Homo sapiens: one gene and its partners. The protein of the gene in region 1 interacts with the protein of each later gene in a biochemical or structural test. Each region holds a gene or a part of one and is shown on either strand. Other genes may lie near its edges.

Region 1 (7,581 bases):
CTCTGAAAAGGTGAGAAGTTCCAGGTCCCTGAGGACAGATTTTTAGGAGCTGGCCATCCCATTTATTCCAAGATTTTGAATGGTTTTAACTTTGTCTTTTTGCTTTCCTCAAATACCCATGTCCATGATAGATAAGATGGGTTTCTGGAACACGATGAACCTTACATTTACAGATATAAGTAGAAGCCCTGTGGGCAAGGCTGGTGGGCTTCACCATGGGCTGCTAGCACGTGAAAGTGGCTGGCTAGATTGAAGCAGAAGCCTCACTTGGGGGAGGCTTCCTCAGCTCTACCTGTAGCTTGTGTAGGTACAAGAATGAAGGATAAAGAGGAGTGTGCGCAAGTGGTCTGACCAGAGGAAAGAAGGGACTTGTGTCTCTATCCTTCTCGTCTGCTGATCCTTTCACTTCACAGGCTGCACAGGGTAAGGGGTGGAGTGCAGGCAGACAAAGAGCAATAAAAGGTACAGAAAAAGGGAGATAAGAGACAAAGAAAAGGGTGAAGGAGAAAATGTGGAGAAAAGAAATGAAGGTCAAAAAGAGAGATGGGAAAGAAAGAAGAAAGGAGAAATAAAAGACATGGGGAGAGGAAAGACCAAAAGAGCTTTGAGAAGCAGAGAGACTGGAAAAAGAATGGGAAAACACAGAGACAGAGAGATGGAGAAACAAATGAGAAACAGAGACAAGAAAGATGGGCAACAGAGAGGTCAGAGAGAAAGGCAAGAAACAGTAGGAGATGAGAGCCATGAAACACAGAGATAAGAAACAGAAGTGAGCAGAAAAATGACAGAGATAGACATAAAAAAGAGAGACAGACAGAATATGAGAGGCAGACAGAAGTAGAGGGGGACCAAGAGATCTGTGTGGCTGAAGAAGGCGGAAGCCAGCCCTTTTGTTTCTGAACCAGCTTCCCCTGCCCCCCACATACCCTCCCCATGTTCTCAACAGTGGTGAAGAGCTCCTTGTTCCCTCACTGAGCTCTCACATGAGAATGTGATGCACTTCTATTCTTCAGATAAACAGCTGAATGATAAGGACAAACTATCTCCATCATTCATTTAAATTCAATTGTCCCTAGAGCGTCTCCTTCTACTATGAATGCCCTACTGGAGCTTTCATCAGATCGAGCCCATCCCCAGGCTGTCCTCCGCTCATGTGTTTCTGTGTAAAATTTTTCTCTGCTTTGATAGAGAGACTTTCAAGAGTTCATTTACATCTCCCAAGGACATATTTACCATCAGATGGACACTAGATAGATTGGCTTCCATTTGTATCTGGGCTCTGAGTATGCTGGTTGTTTTCTGGTTTGTCATTCCCTGAAAAATCTGTAACCTCTTCTAATAAAATGAATAATGGATAAATGATTTTAAATGGTTTGTGGTTTGCTATCAGAGGAGTATCATACATATTAAACACCCAAAATCTTAATGTGCTTAACATCTTTTCCAGCTTTTTGAACAAAGTGGGCTACTTTACCCCCAGGTATAAATCAATTAGCAGAGACATAACCAAGGAGACGTTCAAGACCAAGTTAACTGAGTCTACAGTTAGGATCTCTGAGTGGATGACAGATGTTACACTGAAAGTCAGTAACCAGCATGTCTAATGCTACAGTTGCACCTTTTATAAAAACTGCCTAAATCCCTCTATGTTGCTAGGAGAGGGGGAGAAATTACATACATGCAAGGAAGAAAGGAGGTGAGTTGGAATTAATAGGTACCAATCAATATAAGACTTGGATGTGCGTATCTTACTAAGAGGCATAAATTAAGGCTTAGTGTGCAAGTACTTACATCAGTACCCAGTTTCATCAACATGTGGAGAAAGAAAGCATCGAGTTCCTTCTCTTCTATGTAACCTTTTTCTAAATGTGAGAAAATAAACATAAATAATACTAACATATAAAAAACACATGACAGTATTTATCTAAATATGTTTTTAATCTCACAATTCATAAAGCTTCCCTCAACACTATTTTTTGTTATTCCAATAACAAAGTGCCAACACCTACCTCTAGAATACATGGGTTTGAACAGTAAACACTGTTCCAGAATACGTGCTTTATGCTAGGGTTTATATTAGTGCTTGGAAAAGGAAGGCTATTAAGTACATGAATTTTAATCAATGAATAAACGTGAACTTTCCAATAAAATTTAACCCCAAAATTTCTGAAGCTTGGAGAAACTTAACAGGTGTAAGTATTGAATCCCAGTTTGCAGAGTTAAAACACACCTTTTAGATATTTTATTTCTTTATTAATAAAAACAAATATTAAGTAGTTCCATTTTATTTTCAAGTAGTTTTTTGGTGGAGGAGTCGTTTTGAAAGCTGATAAAATTTATTCTCATTTTGAGAGAGTGAGGGGTGTACAGCAAAGTCACTGCGTAAAAGTGAGCCCATTTAGGGAAGGATGACTTCAAATAGCTGAGTCTCAGCCCACAAGCCTTGAACATATACAATGATATTAGTCATTGTATATACAATATATATGTATGTCTACCATATATATGGCGCGCTCGCACACAAAGAGAGATTGGAAAGGGGAAAGTGGAAATTCACCACCCAGAATTTTAACAAGGTATATAGATGTGTATCACCAGTATGCCAAACGTCTGTTAATGATACTGTATTAGGTACACTGCATTAACAACCCAGGTCGATAACTTTTCCTACAGTAAAGGGGAAACTCCAGGTCCTTTCAGCGGGCTGAGCTTGGAGCCACGTCTACACCTGAGTGTGCAAGTGGCTTGTTCTACTCACCATCCGCATCAAAGCGCTGCCAGACCTGCCAGAAGCCAGCGGCGTCCAAGCGCCCCAGAGTCGGTTCCCGGGAGCTGTCCATGGTGTTGACGACGAAGACCAGGCACCGGCGCGGAAGGACCTAGACAACTTTGGGAAGGACTCCTTCACCGTATTTCTTGACTTGCTCTCCTGCTTCTTTCGCTATCTGATTAGCTTTGAGTAACTGTTGCTGGGGAGGACGCGAGCGCTGCTGGCCGTGGCGTCGCTGAGCCGTCCCTCAGCCCTCAGCAAAACCAGCGGCTGGAAGCCCGCCCCGCTCCTGGCGCGCCTGTCCCCGCCCCGCCCTGCGCGCTGTCCTGGCAGATCCTGTCTGTCTCTGCGCTTTGGGGAATTCAGGAAGAAAGAAACTGTCTCCAGGCGTCCACGGCTCACTGCTTTTGCCCTTTAACTTGCTTCTCAGACTCGGAGAAGACATCCCTCTTACGTTTGACTCACTTTCCAAACTTGTGTCTCAAGGGGTTTTCTAGGGAGAGCTGCCTCATTTAAAGGGTTGCAAGAAGTGTCAGTGTTAGGGTCCTTTGGACTTGAGGATTTAGAAATGTAGTGTGTGGAGAGGGGAGGCGAGAAGGGATGGTGATGGTGGTAAGTGGTTCCCTTTAAGGAAGAAGTCAACAGCAATTATTGAGTCCTGATTGTATAGGACATACACATTGCTGTACCAAAATGCACTATAAGGACTTGCAACTAAACAGGGATACTGCAAGTCACTGTGATTTAAAGTAGCATCATTAGGATGCTGAGGAAAATATAAACTAAGCCGTACTCTGCCAGGAAAAGAGAGTCTGGGGGAGATGTGTCTGCCTGCAGGGTACTTAGGTAGAAGGCTTAGATGATTGTGTTTGGCTCCTAAGAGCCACATTAAGACCAAAGGATAAAAATCAGTTGGAGGAACACAGAGCTTTCTAACAATCAGGACTGTTCAAAATTGGGCAAGGCTTTGTGGAAACGTGTACAAACTACACTGATACCTTTTGACTATATATTTAGAAATTTTCGTTGGATAATCTATAGAAAGTGCTTGGATATTAGATAAGAAAGTTGAACCAGATGTAACTTTTCTTTATGGCACCCTGACTCTGGTTTTAGCATTCAGATTTATTTATAAAAAGCATGCATGTATAAGTCATCTAAACCAGAGTAGTGAAAAGAACATGACACTCAAGGTCAGATAGTCCTGGGTCAGGATCTGAGTTCCATTATTTACCAGCTTTGTGAACTGCACCATTAGTTCTCATCTCCCTAAGCCTCAATTTTCTTATCTATAAAATGAGGATTAAAACATCTGTTTTGGAGGGTTGCTGTGAGGATCAGAACCATACATAGTAATGCACAATGAATTATATCTGCTATGGTGTTGTAGCTGATGAGGGATGACTCTGTTAGAGAAAACAAGTAAAGTCTAAGAGATTGTCATAGCCAAGAGGAACCTAATGAAAAATGACAAAGAAATGTAATGTTTTATCCTGGGTGTGATGCCGGAACAGAAAAAGGCCATTAGGTAAAAATTAAGAAAATTTTAATAAACACGGACTTTAGTTAATAATAATGAAAAAAATGGTTCAGAAGAAAACAGTTCTGGGTTCAGGGCCCAGCTTTGCCTCTTACTAGTTGTGTGTGATATTGGGCAAGTTACTCAAAAGAAGCCTCACTTTCTTTGTAAAATGGGAATAATAGTAGTATTTACCCCGTGTTATTATCATAAAGGTCAAATTAAAAAATCATATAAACCTATTGTCACAGTATATACAGTAACATTCAGTGTAAGTTAGCTACTAAAATGATGAATCTTCCATACATACATACATATTTGGAAGACGGTGAAGTAAACTTCAGGATTTTTGAGGAGTGTGGCTTAGCCTAAAGGAAGAAAAGCAGTATTATCACCGATTAAGCAAGTGCTGGTTACAAAAATTGGAGAAAAGCATATGTAGCATAGGAGGGTGTAAGGGTTCAGTATCTGTAATTATCATCTGTGACTTTAGGAAATTAGTGGATACAATGTCAAGCACCAGTTAGGAAAAGTAATTGGTATGAACCCACCAGGGCTGATCTTGTTTTCTGATAAATAGTGGAAAAAGATAAAACAAGGCAGATTTCAGAAGTAATAATCAAGATCTAATGTGGAGGGATGGTTAAATAAATGATAGTAAATATCTATGATGGGCTTTGCTGCATACACAGAAATCTTGATTTTGAAGCTTGATGATCCAGAAAACTCAAAACATAAGGTTAAGATTAAAAAGCAAGTTACAAAAGTGTACATATATGATGACTCAATTCTGTAAAATAAAATACATGTTTCTACACATAGAAAACATGGAAGATATACATTAATGACATTAATGATATGTTTCTCTGGAGTGGGGAAGAGGGAGGCTCACAGATGATTTCAATTTTGCTATTTGTAATTCTTTTGTCTTAAAACTTTGTGCAGTAAGCATATAATGCAAGCTATTATACTTTTTTAAAGTTGTAAAAGTGAAATCTAGGGAAAGAAGAGGAAAAGTACAGCCGCAAAGATTACTGTTCTCAGGACTGGAGAACAAACAGAACTTGGAACACTTTCCAGGAGCCTGTCATCTGGAGCTCTCTGGGGAGCTGCAATCTCCATTCAATGACTTATTTCCTGTTTTCTTTGCATCCAAATATTTATCATGGCACTGGGTAGGGAGATACTGCTTAGGAATCCTGCATTCCCTCATAAAAGTTTCTCTTTGAGAAAATCATCCAAGCCCTTAACAGAGAAGAGAGCCAGTAGGAAGGTATTTAAAGATCCTACAGGAGACACCTGTAAGACTGTCTCATTGGGAAAGTTCTCCTGCCTAAAAATGGAGTGATGGAGGTGGGGATGAAAGAACCAGAGGTGGTTTATCAGAGTCCCTTCCTGTCCAAAAAGAGAACTCAGAGTAAAGCAAATATTCAGCAGCTGGAATCAAGTTGAAATACATTTTGCATCTTATGGATTAATTAGCACCTTCCACAGAGATTCTGATTTAAATGGTTTGGAGAAAGACCTCTATGCTGATATTTTTTTAAGTGTTCCCCTAGGGATTACACTAGAACCACTGACGAACCTTTTGTCTATAAGTTTCCTGCTGCTCATATTCTGGTCATTTTATTATTTAGGTATGGCATCTCTGAAGGATAATCGAGAAAAGAAAAAACTTCTAAAGAATTAACATTACTTTCTTATTAATACACTGCCTCTTTCAAAGAGAGGTTAGAATTTATACTTATATGTAATCCTGGTAAGTTTTGACAATTGATGGCTGAAACTAGAGACTAAAATCAGTTGTTTTTCTTTTTTCCCTACTGATTTCATTTTCTCCTGCAATCATTTCCTGCTTTTCTCATTAGCATAGCTAATTGATGGTTAGTTGCACAAGAAGAGGCAGTGGTCTGTAATTTGAAGCATTGCTAATTAACTCTGATGCATCCATTCAATTTTAAGCTAAAATATCTGCATCTTTTTACAAACTCAGAATGATATTTCTAACTGGAAATATAAACAATACTCATCTTCATATGTTGTTGAACATTCAAGCTCTGTAGACATCTCACAGACTGTATAGTAGACCTTAGAATTCAAAGAGACAGCCTTGGTTTAAAGCCACACCAGTTCCAAAGGGCCATGCAAGCAGAACAAAAGAAATTGGACAGTGGTTTTCATAAGATAATAAGAAAACACTAGAAATAGAGTTATTTTTAAAATATATACATTTTACTGTTTCCTTTGCAATCACATGAATAGTACAGATAATTTAAACAATATAGATTAGAAAAACTACAAAACAAGAAAGAAAACTTTCTTCCATAATTTTGACATCTAGAGATAACTAGCAATAATAACATATGGGTTTATGTCCTTACAGTAATTTTTTATATGCAGAAAAAGTAGATTATACTGCTCTGTAACTTGCTCATTTCACTTAATATTATGAAGCATGTCATTAAATATTCTTCTATGATATTATTTTAATGTCAGTATTATCATAATTTATTTAATATCCTCTTTTTAGACTTTTCAATTGTCCCTAGGTTTTCACTATCATAAACCTCTGCTGTTACAGCTAAATGTTTGCACACTCTAGTAATTATTTCTTCGGGATAAAGTTCTAAATGCACAAGTGCTGGGCTAAACAATGTATAACATCGTAAGTCTTTATAACATAAGGTTAAAAGTGGTCTCCAGCTGAATTTTACTGATTTATACTGCTATTAGCAGTGGAAGAGATACCTTTTTACACCATTACTAACAATAAAAATAAAAATCTTTGAATAGTTTAAAGTAGTAGTTAATAGTGATTTTATAGGTGGTTGTTTGGGGTAATTTGGGATTTTTTAAGAGGTGGGCTAAGTGTTAAAGTTAAAAGCCTATCACACTCAAGTGGCTCTTCAAAATTTCTTGTCCTCTCTCCCCTTCCTACCCCACAGAACATAGCATCTGGCACTGTGTCTTGCAAACAGTGACTATTTAGTATTCTATATTACCCCAATGATACCATCTTTTCTTAAGGAGTTGATATCACTAAATTATGAAAGAAGATTTTTGTAACCTGTACTAAAGCACAAAACCAGTGCTTTAAAAGCTCTAGGTCTGTTAAAGTAAGTTGAAACTGTAAATATTTTTCCAGCCACTTATACAGCCATCTTCTTACAAACTTAATAATACAAATGCATAGTGTAGCTTTTAAAATTTATTTTCTTCCTATTTTTCCCCTTCTGGGTCTACATTCCTAAATTATATAGAAGTTTTATCTCAGCACCAAGTCTGATACATA
Region 2 (7,000 bases), on another chromosome or scaffold:
AGAGTCCTGGACCAAAGGCAAGCTTCAGCAACTTTCTTCACCCTTAAGCCTCACTGTGTTTAAGGACGGAGCAGGACAGGACGGAGCAGGACAGGCAGGATTCAGTCAGACGTCCACCAGATGCAGGGGCTCGTGTCTGCACTCCCAACACTTTGGGAGGCCAAGGCAGGTGGATCGCTTGAGTCCAGGAGTTCGAGACCAGCCTGGGCAACATATCGAGACTGTCTCTATTAAATTAAATAAAATTTTAAATCACATGTCCATGTGGGCAGGTGGGTGTATCACCACTTTGATATGGAAATCACTTCACACCAGTTGCTAAAGAGCCCCTGACTAAGCCCTCCAGGTGACCCCTTCTCTAGGCCCTCTTATGGCCTCCAAAGTCTCTGGCCTGCCCCATCCCTGTCTGTGCCCCTGGACACGCACAGGCCCTCATGGCACTAATATGTTTGGCTCTCACTTTTGTGACTGTGATTTATTGTCTGTTCTGTGCGTCTGGATGCCTGACATCCAGTTACGCCTGCTGGCATCTCAGCCAACCTAACCCATGGGAGGACAGAGATGCTGAGAGCTGGTGAGTCCAGGTGCTGAGACCTGGTCAGTCAGACGCTGAGACCTGGTCAGTCCAGGGCTGGGATAGGGAGGCTGGGGCAGGCACTCACAAGAGGCCTCGTTGTAGTAGACGCTGATCCGCTCCAGCTGCAAGTCCGAGTCGCCCACGTAGTTGCCGCTGGGGTCGATGCCATGCTCATCACTGATGACTTCCCAGAACTGCAAACAAAGTGGGAGAGGGGGGGTCGGCACCGGCCCATAGCCCCAGCCAGGCCCTTTCCCTTGTGAAGCCTTTTAGCCCTCACTACAAAATTAGGGCTTTTGACCCACGGCCTCCACGAGCCCCATTCAGAAGAGAGCCCCACACTCTGTTACCTGTCAGAAAATTGCCATAATAAATATGCACCTCCACACCTACACGTCCAGGCCGACCACAGCCCCAGGGTGGGCCAAGGTTCAACAGACCCACACCCAGGTCCCCAGGCCCAGCTGTGCAGCTGCTGGCAAGGGCCTGGAGCAGCGGATTCCTCCATGAAGGGCATTGGTAATAAACACCTTGAGGGTTAGTTTTTACTATCCCCTCTTTTCAGGAAAGGGAACTGAGACACAGAGCGGGTAGAGACACCCACAGTAGCTGGCAGAGCAGGGTTCAGAGGCCCAGAGCTCAGGATCGCTTTTGGCTGCTACACCTGCCCCTCCATGGGAGAGCAAACCATGTCCAGTGATGGTGCCAGGACATTACTGGCCTCAGCTGACGGGACTCACAGGGACTCTGAGAGCCAGTCTCATCGGGGACCCCCAGCTGGGTCTGCAGAAGGGTCCTTGGGGTCCCAAATGGGAAGCGACTTGCCTGAGGTCACCCAGCCTGTCCGTGTGAGGCTGGCATCGTCTCAGCTCCCAGGGGTCGTCCTCTCTCTACCTGCCACCTCCACCTCTCTCCCCCTAGAGCAGGTGCCTGCAGTGCTTCTCGGACTCTGCTCCCATGACAGCTGCCGAGCGGAGCCTAGACTCAGGGGCTGGGCCTGCTGGGTTCACAGACGCTTCCCTCACCCTTCCCAGCTGTGTGACCTTGCACAGGTCACTAGGATTCCGTGTCTCAGTGTCCTCATCTGTACAATGGGCACGATGACAGGAGGTCTTTTTGAAATGAAAGTGGGTTAATCTGTGTGAGGCATATAAATGGTATATGGCAAACGTAGAACTATCTATCTGTGTGCACACGGAGAACCACACCCCTGGGTGAGAGCAAGCCCTTCAGGGAAGTTGCCACCTCATCGTGGGACACGCTCTGATGGCCGAGGCCGCTGCGTCTGGGAGCAGTGTCTGCAGGCAGCAGGCCTCCTGGGACACACGCTGGGAGGCTTCCCAGGGCTGCCTGACCTCTCCCAATGCCCCTTGCCCTTACTCCTCAGGAGTGACTTTTAGATGAGCTGACGGGTATGAAGGCCTCAAGAAACAAGGGGCTCTACATGTGAGTCATGTGCTGCAGAAGATTCCTCAAGAAAAAAGCAGGTTAGAAAACAATTTGGTGGGGCCGGGCACAGTGGCTCATGACTGTAATCCCAGCACTTTGGGAGGCTGACGTGGGAGGACCCCAGGAGTGTAGACAAAGATGCGCTTTGGAATGGAGACACAGGAGATGTGTTTTAAGATGCCTCTAGTAGGCCAGGTACAGTGGCTCATGCCTGTAATCCCAACACTTTGGGAGGCCGAGGCGGGTGGATCACGAAGTCAGGAGATCGAGACCATCCTGGCTAACATGGTGAAACCCCGTCTCTACTAAAGATACAAAAAATTAGCCGGGAATGGTGGCGGGTGCCTGTAGTCCCAGCTACTCGGGAGGCTGAAGCAGGAGAATCACTTGAACCCAGGAGGTGGAGCTTGCAGTGAGCTGAGATCATGCCATTGCACTCCAGCCTGGGCGACAGAGTGAGACACCATCTCAAAAAAAAAAAAAAGATGCCTCTCGTAAAGGGGTGACTTTAGTGGAAACTGCTGTGCAGGAGGCAGGACTGGGTGGTAGCAAGCATGAGAAGCATGAGTCTAGGAATTCATATCAAGACCCCATCTCAAAATAAATAAATAAATAGAGGCCAGGTGCGGTGGCTCACGCCTGTAATACCAACAATTTGGGAGGCTGAGGTGGGCAGATCACCGGAAGTCAGGAGTTCGAGACCAGCCTGTCTCTACTAAAAATACAAAAATTAGCCAGGGGTGGTGGCTCACACGTTCCAGCTACTCCGGAAGCTGAGGCAGAAGAATTGCTTGAACCCAGGAGACGGAGGTTGCAGTAAGCCAAGATTGCACCACTGTACTCCAGCGTGGGCGACAGAGTGAGACTCTGTCTCATAGAATAATAATAAATAAATAGAAACAAAACCACTCATAGCTGGGCACGGTGGCTCACCCCCATAATCCCTGCACTTTGGGAGGCAGAGGCGGGTGGGTCACGAGGTCAGGAGTTCGAGACCAGCCTGGCCAACATAGTGAAACTCCATCTCTCCCAAAAATACAAAAATTAGCCAGGCATGGTGGCGCGCACCTGTACTCCCAGCTACTCGAGAGGCTGAGGCAGGAGAATTGCTTGAACCCAGGAGGCAGAGGTTGTGGTGAGTCGAGATCGCGCCACTGCACTCCAGCCTGGGCAATAGTGCGAGACTGTCAGAAAGAAAGGAAGGAAGGAAGGAAGGAAGGAATGAAGGAAGAAAGAAAGGAAAGAGAGAGAGAGAGGAAGGAAGGAAGGAAGGAAGGAAGGAAGGAAGGAAGGAAGGAAGGGGAGAAAACTGCTTGTGCCAGGCACGGTGGCTCACGCCTGTAATCCCAGTACTTTGGGAGGCTGAGGCAGTGGATCATCTGAGGTCAGGAGTTCAAGACCAGCCTGGCCAACATGGCAAAACCCTGTCTCTACTAAAAATACAAAAATTAGCCAGGCGTGGTGGCGAGCACCTGTAATCCCAGCTGCTTGGGAGGCTGAGGCGGAGAATCACACGAACTCGGGAGGTGGAGGTTGCAGTGAGCTTATGTCATGCCACTGCACTCAAGCCTGGGCAACAGAAGGAAACACCGTCTCAAATAAAAGAAAGAAAGAAAACTGCTTGTGGGTGCTTCTCTATGCGTGGGTGCCTCTGGTAGATGTGTGGAAGGCTGTGCCTGGGGAGGGGCCCCAGACTGGGAGGAGCTTCTTCTCACGGGTGCCCTGTGGTCTTGTTGAGATTTTCTCACGTGCACACGGTAGCTTTTCAAAGAAAATTTGTTAAAAATAAATGTTTTTAAAACCTTAAGAATAAACATAGTGTAATTATTGTAACGCGGACAGCATGGACATGGACCACCTCTGCTAACAGTGTCTCGGGATGCCCGTTCACCCTGAGACTGTTATCAGAGGTGCCCGTTCACCCTGAGACTGTTATCAGAGGTCATCTCTCCACAAAGGTCAGGGGTGGATTTCTTTCCATCTTTTGTGCATTTTTGTTATTGCTAAGTTTTATTCTTTTTGCGTTAAATTTTTAAATTACAAAAATGATTCAGGCTGGGTGTGGTGGCTCATGCCTATAATCCCAGCACTTTGGGAGGCTGAGGCAGGCAGATCACTTGAAGTCAGGAGTTCAGGACCAACCTGGACAACAGGGCAAAACCCTGTCCCTACTAAAAATACAAAAATTAGCCGGGCGTGGTAGCGCGCACCTGTAATTTCAGTTGTTTCAGAGTCTGAGACACGAGAATCGCTTGAACCCAGGGGGCAGAGGTTGCAGTGAGCTGAGATCAAGCCACTGCACACCAGCCTGTGGGACAAGAGTGAAACCCTATCTTAAAAAAAAAAAAAAAAAAGGCCGGGCGCGGTGGCTCACGCCTGCAATCCCAGCACTTTGGGAGGCCAAGGCGGGTGGATCACGAGGTCAGTAGTTCGAGACCAGCCTGACCAACATGGTGAAACCCCATCTCTACTAAAAATACAAAAATTAGGCCAGACGCAGTGGCTCACGCCTGTCTGTGGTCCTAGCACTTTGGGAGGCCGAGGTGGGCGGATCATGAGGTCAGGAGATCGAGACCATCCTGGCTGGCACAGTGAAACCCTGTCTCTACTAAAAATACAAAAAATTAGCCAGGCGCGGTGGCGGGCACCTGTAGTCCCAGCTACTTGGGAGGCTGACTCAGGAGAATGGCGTGAACCTGGGAGGCGGAGCTTGCAGTGAACCGAGATTGTGCCACCGTGCTCCAGCCTGGGCAACAGATAGAGACTCCGCCTCAAAAAAAAAAAAAAAAAATTAGCCAGTGTGGTGACGGGTGCCTGTAATCCCAGCTACTCAGGAGGCTAAGGCAGGAGAATTGCTTGAACCCAGGAGGTGGAGGTTGCAGTGAGCCGAGATCACTCCACTGCACTCCAGCCTGAGTGACAGAGTGAGACTCCATCTCAAACAAACAAACAAAAAAATCAGCTGGCCATGGTGGCTCATATTTATAATCCCAGCAGTTTGGGAGGCCAAGAGAGGTGGATCACTTGAGTCCAGGAGTTCAAGACCAGCCTGGGCAACATGGTGAAACCCTGTCTCTACCAAAAAACAAAAAAATTAGTTGGGCATGGTGACGCATGCCTATAGCCCCAGCTACTCAGGAGGCTGAGGTGGGAGGATCACTTGAGCCAGGGGGGTGGAGGTTGCAGTGAGCCTAGATCATGCCAGTCCAGGCGACAGAGTAAGAGCCTGTCTCAAAAAAAAAATACAGAAAGGTCCCTGAGGCATTTGGGGCTTGTCCAAGCTTCCCACCTACTGCTTGCCTCCCTAACACTCTCTTTGAGGATCCCCCATTAATTTAGTTGCTGGCAGTCCACTTGAGTCGGGGACCTTGCTCCCCAAAGCACTGGGACACCCCAAATTTATGGTTCCAGGGAACCCACAACCACCAGCCCCTGTAAAGGAGGGGTGGAGAGAGTAACACATCTATGGGAAGTCCTCTGCAGAGCGAGGCACAGGGCAGCAGGAGCAATGGAGCAGAGTGGATTCAAGACCCAGCACGAGCACAGCTGTGGGCCAGGCGCGTGCCTCGCAGGACCTGTTTTCTCATCTGTGAGATGAACGTGTGAATGGTGCCCACATCCAGGCCTTAGCACAAAGCTTGACATGAAAACATTCAGCACATGTTGGCTTCATTTTGTTCAAATGTTTTAGATACTATTTAAAGTTTTAAAACCATATGCACAGGTCACTTAAAAAAAATGGACCAGAAGGATAGAAAAAGAAATTTGTTCCCACTTGGATAGAGAGAGGTGGCTAGATGGGCACCAGGTTTATCTGCAATATTTAAGGTTTTTTTTAACCAGGAGAATATATTAATTGCTTTTGTAGTTAAAATTAATAAAATTATAATTTGAGATAAAGTAATAAAATATATTGTTCCTTTTTTTTTTTTAGATAGGGTCTTGCTCTATTGCCCAGGCTAGAATGCAGGGGCATGACCTCAGCTCACTTTAACCTCTGCCCACCTCCCCCAGGTGATCCTCCCACCTCTGTCTCCCAAGTAGCTGGGACCACAGGCCGGCGTGCCTCCATGTCCAGCTAATTTTTTTTGTTTTTTATTTTTTGTAGGCACGGAGTCTTGCCATGTTGCCCAGGCTGGCCCTGAAGTGCTGACCTCAGGTGATCCACCCACCTCGGCCTCCCAAAGTGCTGGGATTACAGGTGTGAGCCACCGCACCTGGCCTATGTTACATATTTAATAAACAATAAAATATAATTTTATAAACTAAATTGTTAACATCACTACAGAAAAGGAAATCGGCCCGGCGTGGTGGCTCATGCCTGCAATCCCAGCACTTTGGGAGGCTGAGGCAGGTGAATCACCTGAGGTCAGGAGTTTGAGACCAGCCTGACCAAGATGGAGAAACCCCATCTCTAGTAAAAGTACAAAATAAGCCAGGTGTGGTGGCGGGCGCCTGTAATCCCAGCTACTCAGGAGGCTGAGGCAGGAGAATAGCTTGAACCCAGGAAGTGGAGGTTGCAATGAGCCGAGATCGCGCCACTGCACTCCAGCCTGGGCAACAAGAGCCAAACTCCATCTAAAAGAAAATAAGAAAAAAGGAAAATTGTGGCCAGGCGTGGTGGTGAGCGCCTGCGGTCCCAGCTACTCGGGAGGCCGAGGCTGCAGTGAGCCGAGATCGCGCCTCTGGACGCCAGCCCGGGCGACAGAGCCAGGCCTCCTCTCATAACCAAAAACAAAAACCTGGAAACACAAAGCAGAACCCGGCGTTCGAGGCCAGGCGCTCGGCCCGGGCGCTGTCCTTGGTGCTGACCTCGCGCAGCGCTTGGGGTCCTGGGGAAAGCGGGGCCGGGCTTTGAGGGCAGTGGCCAAGGCAGGTGGGAGCGGGGGTCCCCGATGAAGGGGCTGCGAGACTGGGGCCTCCAAGCCCCTCCAGGACCCGAATGCGGTTCCCGCCCGGCCCGCGGCTCCGCAG
Region 3 (7,430 bases), on another chromosome or scaffold:
AACAGAGATGGGTTTGAATCTCAGCTCCTCTTTTTTTTCTTTTTTTTTGAGATAGAGTCTCGCTCTGTCACCTAGGCTGGAGTACAGCGGCGTGATCTCAGCTCACTGCAGTCTCCCCCTCTCGGGTTCAAGTGATTTTCCTGTCTCAGCCTCCCAAGTAGCTGGGACTACAGGCGCCCGCCACCATGCCCGGCTAATTTTTTGTAGTTTTAGTAGAGACAGGGTTTCACCGTGTTAGCCAGGATGGTCTCGATCTCCTGACCTTGTGATCCACCCGCCTTGGCCTCCCAAAGTGCTGGGATTACAGGAGTGAGCCACTGTGCCCGGCCCTCAGCTCCTGTTGTAGCCATAATGCTTTGGGCGAGTTCACATCTCTGGTCCTCAGTGTTTTGCCTGTTCAATGTTGGCAATGTCGCTGTCCTCACGATGGTGGCTGAGACAAGGAGTCAGTGAGATAAGGCACATGGTCCTCATTCAATAAGCCCAGCTGACAGGGTTGTCATTCACCTTTGCACCCCATGCGCGTACCCCATGCCTCCATGCCTCACACCCAGTGAGAGGGGCTAGGCTCATTTTGGGTGGTACCCAGGCCTGGCCTAAGCCCTGTCCCTCCCTGCAGGCCCCCAGTATGGCACACTGGAGAAGGCCTGGCATGCCTTTTTCACGGCGGCTGAGCGGCTGAGCGCGCTGCACCTGGAGGTGCGGGAGAAGCTGCAAGGGCAGGACAGTGAGCGGGTGCGCGCCTGGCAGCGGGGGGCTTTCCACCGGCCTGTGCTGGGCGGCTTCCGCGAGAGCCGGGCGGCCGAGGACGGCTTCCGCAAGGCCCAGAAGCCCTGGCTGAAGAGGCTGAAGGAGGTGAGGCTGGGTGGGGGAGGTATCCGAGACAGGCTCCTTCCTGTTTGTTTGCAAGGGATCGAGGGGGCCAAGGTGTGGCATCCAGGGTCCAGAGTGGTCTCCATGCATGCCAGGTTGAGGCTTCCAAGAAAAGCTACCACGCAGCCCGGAAGGATGAGAAGACCGCCCAGACGAGGGAGAGCCACGCAAAGGCAGACAGCGCCGTCTCCCAGGAGCAGCTGCGCAAACTGCAGGAACGGGTGGAACGCTGTGCCAAGGAGGCCGAGAAGGTACAGGCCACAGGTCCCAGCCCTGGCCCCCGCCCAGGGCACGGCTTCCTGAATGAATCTTGCTCCCTGAACATCTTGTCCAGTCCCCAGCACCCTTATTACCCTATTCCTCACCTGCCACCCTCTCTCCAGATGATCATTTAAAGGAGGAACCTGACAAAAGGTGATGCTTTACTAGGGAAAGAAATGGAGTTTCAGGCACTGGGATGACTTCAGCAGTTGAGAACTTCCAGCTCTTTTCCTTGCACAGTACCCTTTGCCCGAAGTGTCCTTTCCTGCAGCTCTGGATATGCAAATCCTCCCCATCCTGAGATGCTGCAGTTTCCACCTCCTCCAGGAAGCCTTTTCTGATTTCTCCCATCCTTTCCTGTAGGTTGACCTCATTTCAATCCTCACCAGACTCTTTTATATGCTGTGCCTGATGTCACCTCCCTTGTTAGGCTGCTGGGGTCCTTGAGGGCAGGAGCTGGGTCTTGGGACTGATTGCCCCTAGTGGCTAGCCCTGGGTCTAGCAGCCTATGGCAGTGTCTGGTAAACACTGGTGGAGTCCTGGGTGGAAGAAGGTCTGGTTCTCACCAGGCCCCTCCTCTCCCACCCAGACAAAAGCTCAGTATGAGCAGACGCTGGCAGAGCTGCATCGCTACACTCCACGCTACATGGAGGACATGGAACAGGCCTTTGAGACCTGCCAGGCCGCCGAGCGCCAGCGGCTTCTTTTCTTCAAGGATATGCTGCTCACCTTACACCAGCACCTGGACCTTTCCAGCAGTGAGAAGTATGAACTGCCTGGTGGGCATGGAGATCTGGGGTAGTACTGGGTCTCCTCCATCTCCCCGAGGCCCTGGCTGGGACTGAGGGATGCAGGGTCTAGACTTCCTAGACTGAGGGGTGTGCCTTGGGTCATAGGTTCCATGAACTCCACCGTGACTTGCACCAGGGCATTGAGGCAGCCAGTGACGAAGAGGATCTGCGCTGGTGGCGCAGCACCCACGGGCCAGGCATGGCCATGAACTGGCCACAGTTCGAGGCATGTGTTCCAGGCGGGGTGGGGATGGGAGGTGGGATGGGCTCCCACTCAGCTCGGCCAGGGCTAGGGATGAAGTAAGTGAAGGTGGTTCAGATGGCCCCACCTGACTATAAGCACTGTCCCCACAGGAGTGGTCCTTGGACACACAGAGGACAATCAGCCGGAAAGAGAAGGGTGGCCGGAGCCCTGATGAGGTTACCCTGACCAGCATTGTGCCTACAAGAGATGGCACCGCACCCCCACCCCAGTCCCCGGGGTCCCCAGGGTGAGAGCCAGGAGCGCGGCTGTGGCAAAGAAACAGCTCTGCCTCCCGCCCTCCTTTCCTTTCTCCTTGGTTTCATTTCTTTCACACCTGAAATGGGTTGAAAATTGGTGCCAGGGACCTGAGGGCCTACTTAGTAGTTGTAATGATACTGGTTCTCATAGTGGTTTAGATTTGCTGGGCATTTCCCACATTCCCTCTCGTTTATGCCTTAAATCAGCTGCGTGTGGCAGGAATTGCCTCTTTGCTCACAGTCGGGCATGGCGAGGTAGAGCTAGAATCTTTAGTACCTCACCTGACTCTCCCAGGTGCCTCTGGGGGTAGGGAGGCCTTTGCCCTGATCCTGGGTGAGATCTCCAGCCCCGTGTTCCTTGCACTCTGAGCTGCTCCCTTTGCCTCCCCTCTCCAGCACGGGGCAGGATGAGGAGTGGTCAGATGAAGAGAGTCCCCGGAAGGCTGCCACCGGGGTTCGGGTGAGGGCACTCTATGACTACGCTGGCCAGGAAGCTGATGAGCTGAGCTTCCGAGCAGGTACCCTGGGACCCCTTTCCTAGCTTCAGCCTCTGCCTTATCTGCCTGAGCAGGGGTGTCAGAAAGGGAAGCCAAATACCCACTTCTTAAGGGCCAGTCCTCTGTCCCTTCAGCTGTTCCAGGTCCAGATAGCTGGTGCCTGGTGGCTGCATTCAGGGTCTGGGGTGGGGCAGCTTGCTGACCTTGACCTGCCTCTGCCTGAGCCATGTCTTTGCTAGCTGGGCTCTGGGACCACACCATCCCCCTCAGTCCTTGACCCAGTTGCAGGAACAGGGCCTGGGCCAGGGCCACTGGCAGTGACCAATCCCCTTTCCCCCAGGGGAGGAGCTGCTGAAGATGAGTGAGGAGGACGAGCAGGGCTGGTGCCAAGGCCAGTTGCAGAGTGGCCGCATTGGCCTGTACCCTGCCAACTACGTGGAGTGTGTGGGCGCCTGAGTGTCCTGACAGCCCTTCTGCAACGTTTACCCACCCTGGTTCAGAGCCCAGCTTCTCCTGGAGAGCCGGACCCTCAGGGCCCTGAACCGTCGCTCTCTGGCTGCTCCTCTGTCCCTTGAGGGAGGAAGTCCTGGGACCCAGGGAGGGGAGGGGCCTTTGTCTAGGGAAGGGACTGGTAGGGAAGGGACGAGTCTAGGCTGAGGGCAAGATGGGAGGTCAGAGGTGACAGAAGCGTTCAGGGGTGCCTGGGCCTCCCCAGGAGCTGTGGACTCAGTTCCTGACCTCTGCTTTGGGGTTCCTGGGGTGGGCTTGGGGTGAGTGTAGTTCTGGCCTAGCAGCACCCTCTTGTGGCTTGTTCTAGCGTGTATTAAAACTTGACACACACCCACACACAAAAACAAAAACACCACTGTCGGGCTCATGTGCATTTTTTTGATAGGACACCCTTGCCAGGCCACCAGAGGGCATCTAGAGAGAGGCCTAGCGTCTGTTATGGGGCCGGGGTTGGAAAAGGGTTTGCCTGCTTGGTACCTGCTCTGGAACTTCGAGATACTAATCTGGAGTGGAGGGGACTCGCTGTCAGGCTTGCTGTTAACCGAGAACGGCTGAAGGCTGGGCGAGACGCGGGCCAATGCGTCTGCCCGTTCGGGCCGGAGGGACGAGGAGTGTTTGGGCAGCCTAATCCTTATTCATCGATCTGTAATTAGCTGGAGTGGGGGTCCCCGCCCCCAGCCTCCCGCAGCCTGCGCGGCGTGGGGGCGACTCCACCTGGGGGTTGCGGCGTGGGAGGGGCGGGGGGAAGGGTACTACGCGCGCGAGGAGGTTTGGGCCGGTCCGCGCGCCGTCGCCCCGCCCCGGCTGCGGATTGGCCCGGCGCGGCGTTGATTCTTGCGGCCGCGGTTGTCGTCGCCGCCCCCGTCCCGCCGGCTGCCCATTGGTCCAGATCGGACTCCAATCACCCCACCCCTCGGCTGGCCCAGGCACCGCTGAGGCCGGCCTGGTGAGCCCGCCCTCCCCGCCGTGGATTGGCCCGCGGCGGGACCCGTCAGCCGCGGTTGTGTCTGGGAAGGAGAGAAAATGGCGGCGGAGCCGAACAAGACCGAAATCCAGACTCTTTTTAAGAGGCTTCGCGCAGTTCCAACCAACAAGGTGCGTGAGCAGGGGGCGCGCGGAGTCTCTCGTCCCGCTGGGGCCTGAGGGAGGGAGAAGGGCGGAGGTGGGTTATGTTTCTGGGGTGTCGGTGCCTGGCCTTTACTCGGGGCCCCTGACGATTCGCTCATCGCCGCCTCCACCCAGGCCTGTTTCGACTGCGGCGCCAAGAATCCGAGTTGGGCCAGCATCACGTACGGTGTTTTCTTGTGCATTGACTGTTCCGGGGTGCACCGCTCCCTGGGCGTCCATCTGAGCTTCATCAGGTAGGCTCTCCGCGCGGTTGCCGTGTTTCCACCCGGCCGGCCAGGGGTGTCTGGGCAACAAGGGAGAGTGGCTGCCTCGACTTGGGCCGCTCTGAATTCGGTGGGAAGCCTCTGGGCCGAGAGGGTCCGGTAGCCTCCTGCCAGAGGGAACCACCTGTGTGGGCCCTTTGGCACATGGGCGGTCCGTCTCCGCCTCTGGGCCAAAACTTCCTCTTTTTTGACGGTCAGGCTTGAGACTCTGAGCGTTAGTTGAGGGGAAAGGGAGGCATTGACCTTGTTGTTGCTGATATGTTGTTAGACCAGTATGTCTCTAGTGAGACTGTGACCATCCATTAGGGGAAAGCCAAATCCAGGCGTGCGTGCCTGAGAATGTGACCTCCTTTCGGATCTGGGGACATAATTAGTACTCTTTGGAGTAAATGAACGAAGAGGAGAGTTTTCATGGACAGGGTAGTGTGGAGGAAATGGGGTGATGGCTGATTAATGTTTCCTGGGTGCCTACAGCAGCCTGAGGCCAAGTGACAGGTATCCGGGTTGCCAGGGAAATCCTGCTGGTATCTGCTAGTGGGTGAGACGCAGCCCTTGTACACAGGTCCACAGAGTTGGATTCCAACTGGAACTGGTTCCAGCTGAGGTGTATGCAGGTCGGCGGGAATGCCAATGCGGTAAAGCTCCTTCTACTTCCCTCACCTTCCATTCTTCTGCCTGGTTACTAACTTTGCACGACTCCCTAAGAGGCCCTGTCGTTTTCCCTGTTCAGAGGGTTCTCTGTTCTATAACACCACCATAAGCTATTTTCTGAAAACTTCGAAACTGGTCACAGCTTCTCTTAAATGGGTTTCAGATTCCAATTAAACTGGGCAGGTGTTCTTGGGGAAAAGCCACAGGAGTTGGGAGCCTTCACAGTCATTGGGTCTTGTGGGCCTGCCCTGGATGAAGGATGGGGAGGCTGGGTATGGGATGTTGTGCTCAGGCAGCGTTCAGTGGGGCCTGGACTTCAGTCATATCAGAGGATGGCCCGCTGCAAGGTGTTTTTTGCAGGAATTTCGAGAAACTTTATCTCTGAAAAACCGGTGTCAGTAGCGTGTATCATCCTGTATAGATAATAACTTCGCTGTCATAAGGAGATGTCTCCTACAGCCAACACGTTTCCTTCTTGAGAATCACCCGTAGCACGCGCTGCTCTCTTCTTTGCTCTCCAGACGGCTTTTTTTCGCCAACATGGATGCACAGCCAATGATGCCAACACCAAATATAATAGCCGAGCTGCCCAGATGTACCGGGAGAAGATCCGGCAGCTGGGGAGTGCGGCCCTGGCTAGGCATGGCACTGATGTAAGTGCCTGTTCTTGGGGCTGGGGCAGGAGGGTTAGGAGTATTCAGAGCCCTGTGTTTTAGGGGTGTCTTCTCCTTTCTAGCTTTGGATAGACAACATGAGTAGTGCCGTTCCTAATCACTCCCCAGAGAAGAAGGACTCTGATTTCTTCACAGAACACACTCAAGTGAGTGCCCACAAGGAACCGTTTTCCCAGTTGTTCTTGACAGGCAATTTACCAAGGCCCAGGCCTTCTGTGATCATGGTTGTAGATTCCATTTGCTTTGATGTGATGTCTTGGACACCACGTATGAAGTCCACTGTTCCTGCTGGGTAGGCCTAGGTGTTTCCTCCTCCATAAATGGAGGTGCAGTGTAGCCCTCCTTAGAAATCGACTCCTATAAATTGGGCTGGCGGGGAAGAGAGGCAGCTTCTTGAAGTTTCAAGAGGTGTCCGGTGCCCCAAACAAATTTTCCTGGATTCTTCCCCTATAAGAAAGGCACTGTGGGCCGGGCGCAGTGGCTCACGCCTGTAATCCCAGCACTTTGGGAGGCCGAGGCGGGTGGATCATGAGGTCAGGAGATCGAGACCATCCTGGCTAACAAGGTGAAACCCCGTCTCTACTAAAAATACAAAAAATTAGCCGGGCGCGGTGGCGGGCGCCTGTAGTCCCAGCTACTTGGGAGGCTGAGGCAGGAGAATGGCGTGAACCCGGGAAGCGGAGCTTGCAGTGAGCCGAGATTGCGCCACTGCAGTCCGCAGTCCGGCCTGGGCGACAGAGCGAGACTCCGTCTCAAAAAAAAAAAAAAAAAAAAAAAAAAAAAAAAAAAAAAAGGCACTGTGCTTGGGGACAGTGAAAGGATTCTCTCCTCCCCGCCCCACCCCTTTGAGGAGGGTTTCCTCTTTACTGGCCCTGGGTGCTGAAGTTAGACTCTTGGCTTCAATTCCTGTTCTCTACTCCGCATTCCTGTGATGGTGGCCAAGTCACTCAACCTGTCAAAACCTCAGTTTCTAAAATGGCGATGTAGCTCCTTCATAGGGGTTGTAGTGATAATTAAATATATTCATATATGAGGAGCCTTTAGATCTGTGCCTGCCTAGGTGGTGGTAGTTAACTGTCTTTAAGTTAGGAGAATGGGCTCTGGCTCTAAGTAAATAGTGAAGGGGTTGGGGTGGGGGCTGCTTGTCTTCCTGCTTTCTTCCACAGTGAATAGCAACTGTGATCTTGTTTGCTACCCTCCAGTCCCTTTCCTCATGGGTTTGGAGTATGATTTCTTGTCCACAAGGTGCTTGTAGGTCTTGGTGCTTCTTGCCAGCAGGAG

What was found. The genes of interacting proteins can lie anywhere in the genome.
Region 2: the proteins of SCGN (region 1) and TUBB3 form a complex in vitro, tested with the Homo sapiens proteins (one study listed by BioGRID).
Region 3: the proteins of SCGN (region 1) and ARFGAP2 form a complex in vitro, tested with the Homo sapiens proteins (one study listed by BioGRID).

The regions. Positions count from the first base shown.
Region 1 is NC_000006.12:25,647,663-25,655,243, reverse strand, and holds the start of SCGN (secretagogin), read right to left. Parts: upstream 3,030-7,581; 5' UTR 2,841-3,029; coding exon 2,759-2,840; intron 1,863-2,758; coding exon 1,792-1,862; intron 1-1,791.
Region 2 is NC_000016.10:89,926,342-89,933,341, reverse strand, and holds part of TUBB3 (tubulin beta-3 chain), read right to left. Parts: intron 772-7,000; coding exon 663-771; intron 1-662. UniProt on the Homo sapiens protein: Tubulin is the major constituent of microtubules, protein filaments consisting of alpha- and beta-tubulin heterodimers. Microtubules grow by the addition of GTP-tubulin dimers to the microtubule end, where a stabilizing cap forms.
Region 3 is NC_000011.10:47,173,880-47,181,309, reverse strand, and holds the start of ARFGAP2 (ADP-ribosylation factor GTPase-activating protein 2), read left to right. Parts: upstream 1-4,430; 5' UTR 4,431-4,456; coding exon 4,457-4,528; intron 4,529-4,675; coding exon 4,676-4,794; intron 4,795-5,386; coding exon 5,387-5,459; intron 5,460-5,996; coding exon 5,997-6,128; intron 6,129-6,211; coding exon 6,212-6,295; intron 6,296-7,394; coding exon of another isoform or gene 7,395-7,430. Other genes in the region: PACSIN3 (protein kinase C and casein kinase substrate in neurons protein 3), read left to right, coding at 620-855, 969-1,124, 1,724-1,899, 2,031-2,151, 2,280-2,416, 2,823-2,944, 3,264-3,379.